2 linked regions of the Homo sapiens genome follow. The protein of the gene in region 1 purifies or fractionates together with the protein of each later gene. This does not show direct contact. Each region holds a gene or a part of one and is shown in the gene's direction. Other genes may lie near its edges.

Region 1 (3,500 bases):
GTCGGAGGGAGAACTGCACCCTTGGGCCCTGCAGCATTGGGGGTGAGGGTCGGACAGGGAAGATCACTGTGACTCAACAAGAAAGCATTTAACAATTAGACGACTTTCTCCCTTTCCACATCCCTGTCACAGCTGAACAGCTAAATTCTAAAGGGCCAAAGACAAAATGAGAGGTGGGTTACAGTATTGACCCAGGAACCCCCCCACCCACCCCCAGTTTGCAATGCTCTGGGGGCTTCCTGGCCCAGAGGCGAGGCTTCCAGTAAACAAAGTCAGTGGAGGTTTCCAAGATGACGCTGGAATAAATGTCAGAGCCCATGCCCACCCCAGAGCCAAGTTATCCACTCAAGCCGGGGTTCCCTCACTCCAGAAGGATCATAGACACACTCAGGGCTCCTTCCACCGGCTGGTGAGCAGGAAGCCAAGGTAGAGACCCTGGCATCACAAGGCTCTTGATCCAATGAAAGAATATCCTGGGGGAGTGGACGGGCAGGTGGGATGGACAGTGATGAGGCAGACACTGCGTATCTGGGAACATTTTTTTTTTTTTTTTGAGACGGAGTCTCGCTCTGTCGCCCAGGCTGGAGTGCAGTGGCGCCATCTCCGCTCACTGCAAGCTCTGCCTCCCGGGTTTACACTATTCTCCTGCCTCAGCCTCCCAAGTAACTGGGACTACAGGCGCCCGCCACCACGCCTGGCTAATTTTTTTGTATTTTCAGTAGAGACAGGGTTTCACCGTGCTAGCCAGGATGGTCTCCATCTCCTGACCTCGGGATCCACCCGCCTTGGCCTCCCAAAGTGCTGGGATTACAGGCATGACCCACTGCGCCCGGCCTCTGGGAACATCTTTATACTGATGTCTTGTTTAGTGCTCAAGTCCAGTGGGCACCTGTTGTTTCCTCTATAAAATCAGGTTTTACCCCCATAGAACATGAGATCAGGGATGTTTTAGAAATTAAAGGCCCCGCAGCTGCAGCTAGGAGCAGGGATGGGTGGGTGGAACAGAGAAGTAGGCACGTGGGGGACAAATGTGTTCACAGGCATGAGACAAGGGGCAGCCCACTGAGGAGTCCTGTCTTTCACGCTGCCTTGTCTGGCAGGGCCTGAGGGCTGGCTCCTTCTTCTACCCGGGCGGGAACGTCACCTACCAAGGGGTGGCTGTGACGCGGAGCCGGAAAGAAGGCATCGCACACAACTACAAAAATGAGACGGAGTGGAGAGCGAACATCGACACAGTGATGGCGTGGTTCACAGAGGAGGACCTGGATCTGGTCACACTCTACTTCGGGGAGCCGGACTCCACGGGCCACAGGTACGGCCCCGAGTCCCCGGAGAGGAGGGAGATGGTGCGGCAGGTGGACCGGACCGTGGGCTACCTCCGGGAGAGCATCGCGCGCAACCACCTCACAGACCGCCTCAACCTGATCATCACATCCGACCACGGCATGACGACCGTGGACAAACGGGCTGGCGACCTGGTTGAATTCCACAAGTTCCCCAACTTCACCTTCCGGGACATCGAGTTTGAGCTCCTGGACTACGGACCAAACGGGATGCTGCTCCCTAAAGAAGGGAGGCTGGAGAAGGTGTACGATGCCCTCAAGGACGCCCACCCCAAGCTCCACGTCTACAAGAAGGAGGCGTTCCCCGAGGCCTTCCACTACGCCAACAACCCCAGGGTCACACCCCTGCTGATGTACAGCGACCTTGGCTACGTCATCCATGGGGTGAGTCGCCTGCTGGAGGCACCACCTCCAGGGGCTCCCTCCCCAGGCTCTGGGTCTTCTTTTTTTTTTTTTGAGACCAGGGTCTTGCTCTGTTGCCCAGGCTGGAGTGCAATGGCAGGATCTCAGCTCACTGCAGCCTTAAACTCCCAGACTCAAGCGATCCTTCCACCTCAGCCTCCTGAGTAGCTGAGACCACAGGTGCACACCACCATGCCTGGCTAATTTTTGTGTGTGTTTTGTTTTGTTTTGTTTCATTTGAGACAGAGTTTCACTCTTGTCATCCAGGCTGGAGGGTAATGGTGCCATCTTGGCTCGCTGCATCCTCCACCTCCTGGGTTCAAGCGATTCTCCTGCCTCAGCCCTCTGAGGCATTACAGGCGCCTGCCACCATGCCTGACTAATTTTTTGTATTTTTAGTGGAGACAGAGTTTCACCATGTTGGCCAGGCTGGTCTCGAACTTCTGGCCTCAGGCGATCCACCCGCCTCAGCCTCCCAAAGTTATGGGATTCAGGTGTGAGCCACTGTGCCCAGCTGATGTTTGTATTTTTTTGTAGAGACAGGGTTTTGCATGTTGGCCAGGCTGGTCTCAAACTCCTGGGCTGAAGCGATCCTCCTGCCTGGGCCTCCCAAAGTGCTGGAATTACAGGGGTGAGCCACTGCGTCTGGCCTCTCCTTCCATCTCCATAGAGGCACTTCCTGTTTCTAGCTGGTCCCCAGTTTGAGGAGTGTCAGCACCGAAGGGACACTTCCTTCACTATGCGGTAGGGTGTGTGCACATCTGTGTGTGCCCTCCACATTCAGGCACCAGGCAGTGGGAGTGTGTGTGCACGTCTGTATCCATCATGACCAGGCACTGTGTGATAGGCGTGTGTGTGTGTGTGTGTGTGTGTGTGTGTGTGTGTGTGCGTCCTACGTGTCCAGGGTAAAGTGTAGAAGTCCAGCCCCAAGGGTGACATGGAAGAGGTAGGAAAGAGTCAGGAGCCCAACCTCCCCTCAGCAGACAGCACAGGGATGCTGAGCCGGAAGCGAAGCACAGATTAGGGAGCAGACATCCCCGGAAAGGAAGTGACCGATGGGAGGCAGCGTTCAACACCGCACAGGCGGCAGGCCCCGAAGCCTGGAGCTGCCCGCTCCACTCCCATTTACTCAGGGTCTGGTCTCCGTTCATTTAACTGGACCTTCCCTGAACTTCACTCTTTAGGGTGACTGATCTTTGGAGGCTCAGAATTCGGGGAAACTGAGTCTTGGAACCCCTCCAGCCCTCACGTTGGTGCTCCTTCCTAAGGGGGTGTTCATAGGGTGGATAGGGTAGGCGGAGAGGGTCTGTTGCTCCCAGCAAGGACCCAGGACCCTTGCCCGCTCCCCGGCAGAGAATTAACGTCCAGTTCAACAATGGGGAGCACGGCTTTGACAACAAGGACATGGACATGAAGACCATCTTCCGCGCTGTGGGCCCTAGCTTCAGGGCGGGCCTGGAGGTGGAGCCCTTTGAGAGCGTCCACGTGTACGAGCTCATGTGCCGGCTGCTGGGCATCGTGCCCGAGGCCAACGATGGGCACCTAGCTACTCTGCTGCCCATGCTGCACACAGGTGAGGGCAGGGTGCCCCAAATCCCCGCCTGCTCTGGTGTGTACACGTGTGCACACGAGGGTGCCTGCATGCCTGTGACCAGGACACCCTTGAGCCCCAAGTGGGGCCACCTCCCCTGGCTTTGGAGAACACCAGAATCTCTCACATTCCCACAACACGTGACCTCTCACGAGCACCTCATG
Region 2 (3,500 bases), on another chromosome or scaffold:
AGAAATTTGAGTACCTGTGTTTCTAGATTGTGGTATTTTGTGATGCTGAGCTGTTTGTCCTATATTCTGGGGGTAGAGCCACATAAAAAGCCTCCACACCTTTCTTAGAATGTTCTCTTGATTAAATACATTAAGCCAGTTTGACTAGTAGGATACTTGTCATTGTGATTTGTCATGCCACAAACTTTATTTTTAAAGTTGTCTTCAGATAAAACAAAAAAGTGCTATGTTTGTTTAACTAGTTGGCTTTCTTTTTTTTTTTTTTTTTTTTTTGTGACAGAGTCTCACTCTATCACCCAGGCTGGAGTGCAGTGGCGGGATCTGGGCTCACTGCAACCTCTGCTGCCCAGGTTCAACCGATTCTCCTGCCTCAGCCTCCCAAGTAGCTGGGATAACAGGCGCCTGCCACCCCGCCCAGCTAATTTTTGTATTTTTAGTAGAGACTGGGTTTCACCATCTTGGCCAGGATGGTCTTGAACTCCTGACCTCGTGATCCACCTGCCTCGGCCTCCCTAAGTGCTGGGATTACAGGCATGAGTCACTGCACCCAGCCCACTACTTGGCTTTCCGTTTTCTTTTTTTCTTTTTTTTTGAGTGTTGTCAGAACTACCAATAGGTAAAATATAATTCTCAGGTAGTCTATACAATTCTCCCTGCCAGTCCCCTGTACTTTTCCTGGTATTTACAATGTTAAAGCTTTTAAGGACACGTCACCTATAACTCTGGGAGTCTGGCTTTCAGGGAGTGCTTTGTATTAACTGTTGCCGTGATGGCCAAAAGTACCAGCTCCCTGACATTCCGTTATTTCTACCACAACGGAGTAGTCCCGCGATAGGAAGTAACTCAACTTAAAATGGTAGTGTTACGTAAACTGTCTTCAGCCTGGTACATCTTTCACTGGGATTTTACCTGTACAGAGAGCTTTGGTAACCTAGTTTACCATTAGACCATAATTAAAAGCTGGTTGTCATATATAAGCCTCTTACATACAGTTAATAAGAGGGATGGGATCACAGGCATGTGAAAGATCATAGGGGGAAAATGAAACAGCTTTGTGGTTTGGAAGAAGGCAATTCAGCAAAAGTACTCAAATTATTACTTTGTCAAAATGTTTAGGTAGTATTTAGAGTCTTCATGAGGAAAGATGTCATTAAATATTTGGTTGTTCCCAGCAGATTCTGACTTACTGTTTATTTTTTAAGTTAACCTATCATTTGTTGACACTTTTTATTGAAAAATTGAAAGGCAAAACAATATTTGCTATGTATGACATCTACCAGTATGTGAAATTGTATATTCAGGTGCTTAATATTCTGATGTTGTATACTTGTGGGTGGGGGTAGTCCTGAAGTGCCCACTTTGTATTGAAACTTGAAATTACTGTTTTTCAGTCTCATTCATTGTTCTGCACAAGAGCATAATCAGAATTCAGATTTCTGATTATGGCTTTCCAGTGCCAAATGTTATTTTGCTGTCCATATGGGTTATATCTCTCTGTACTTCATCACCCCAAAAAGAAACTCTGTACTCATTAGCAGTCACTCTCCATCCTGCTTCCCTGTCAGCCCCTGGCAACCACTAATCTTTCTGTTTCTATGAATTTACTTACTCTGGACATTTCATATAAATAAGAACATACATATGTGGTCTTCTGGGGCTGGCGTCTTTTACTTAGTATAATGTTTTCAAGGTTCGTTCATGTTGTAGCATATGTCGCTTCTTCCTGTTTAGTGCTGACTAATATTCTGTCATGTGAGTATACCACATTTTTTCTATGCATTTGTCAATTGGATATGTGGGTGGTTTCTTTTCTTTCTTTTTTTTTTTGGCTATTATTTTTTATTTATTTACTTTTCTGAGGCAGGGTCTTGCTCTGTTGCCCAGGCTGGAGTGCAGTGGAGCTATCATGGCTCACTGCAGTGTCAACCTCCTGGACTCAAGTGATCCTCCTGCCTCAGCTTCCCGAGTAGCTAGGACTGCAGGTGTGCGCCATCACACCCAGCTAGTTTTTTTATTTTTTTGTAGAGGTGGGAACCTTGCTTTGTTGCCCAAGCTGGTCTTGAACTCTTGACCTCAAGCAATCCTCTGGTCTCAGTCTCCCAGTGTTGGGATTACAGGTGTGAGACACCACTTGGAGCTCTACTTTCTGGCTACTATGAATAATAATGTTTTGAACATTCCTGTACAAGCTTTTATGTAGACATGTTTTCATTTCTCTTGGGTACATTCCTAGGAGTGGAATTGCTGGGTCATTATGGTTAACTCTGTGCTTAATATTTTGAAGAACTGTCAGATTTTTTCCAGAACAGCTGCACAATTTTATATTCCCATCAGCAATGTATGAGGGTTTAATTTTCTCCACATTCTCGTCAACAATTGTTACACTGCCTTTTTCATTTTAGCCATCCTATTGGGTGTGAAGTGGTATCATAGGATTTGCAAATAATTTCTCCTGTCTGTGGGTTGTCCTTTTACCTTCTCGATGGTGTCCTTCAAAGCAGAAAGTTTTTAATTTGAAGGCCGATATATCTATTTTTCTCCTGCCACTTATGCTTTTGGTGTCACATCTTAGAAGCCATTGCCTAATCCAAGGTCATATAGATTTACTACTATATTTTCTTCTAGATATTTTATCCTGTTAACTCTTACATTAGATCTGTGATCTATTTGTGGTTAATATTTGTATATGATGTGAGGGAGGGATAGAACTTTATACTTTTGCATGTGGATATCAAGTTGCCCTAGCTTCTTTTGTTAAAATAATGTTCTTTCTTCATTGAATTCCCTTGTCCGAGATGAAGTGACCGTCAATAGAAGAACTCACTCATTCCATTGATCTGTATGTCTGTCCTGCCAGTACCATACGATCTTGATTACTGTAGTTTTGTAGCTGGTTTTTAAATAGGGGCATATGAGTCCTCTAACTTTATTATTTCTGAAGATGTTTTTGGGTATTCTCAGTCCCTTGCATTTCCATATTGAATTTTAGGACTAGATTGCCAGTTTCTGCCAAAAAAGCAACTGCAATTTTGATAAGGTGTTTCACGGTTTTGCAGGTATCTTTTAATGTCTTAACAGCTGGATTCTCATCTCTGCTCCTGAATTCATTCCCTTAACGTTATTTTAATGAAGTAAGGAGTACTTGAATAGTTTTTCAGGTAGTTGAATATTCTTTGATACCGAAACTTCATAAGTGATAGTTTGCAAAGAATAGTTACACTATGCAATCTGAAATCATATTGATGAATTTGCCCAACTCCGCAGGTCTGCTTTATACTTGGAATGGATCTTCTACCATGCCTGGTTTTGTAGCGTTACTGGTCATTTGGAAAATATTTGTTCATCGTTACGCAGATCTTCCACATGTTGACACATTTTATTATACAAGCATTTTTAAAAATCACATTTGTTAATATCACCACCAATCTCTGCAAAGTCTTAAGTTTTAGAACACTGTTCGCTATGAGTGGTGCAAGTTTTCCAAAATTCTAATTTCCTCC

What was found. Proteins that work in one complex are often made in the same cells at the same time.
Region 2: the proteins of ENPP7 (region 1) and RHEB purify together in Homo sapiens (affinity purification with mass spectrometry; one large-scale study listed by BioGRID and IntAct). This does not show direct contact.

Annotation. Positions count from the first base shown.
Region 1 is NC_000017.11:79,733,943-79,737,442, forward strand, and holds part of ENPP7 (ectonucleotide pyrophosphatase/phosphodiesterase family member 7 precursor), read left to right. Parts: intron 1-1,100; coding exon 1,101-1,727; intron 1,728-3,098; coding exon 3,099-3,318; intron 3,319-3,500. UniProt on the Homo sapiens protein: Choline-specific phosphodiesterase that hydrolyzes sphingomyelin releasing the ceramide and phosphocholine and therefore is involved in sphingomyelin digestion, ceramide formation, and fatty acid (FA) absorption in the gastrointestinal tract.
Region 2 is NC_000007.14:151,513,396-151,516,895, reverse strand, and holds part of RHEB (GTP-binding protein Rheb), read left to right. Parts: intron 1-3,500. UniProt on the Homo sapiens protein: Small GTPase that acts as an allosteric activator of the canonical mTORC1 complex, an evolutionarily conserved central nutrient sensor that stimulates anabolic reactions and macromolecule biosynthesis to promote cellular biomass generation and growth.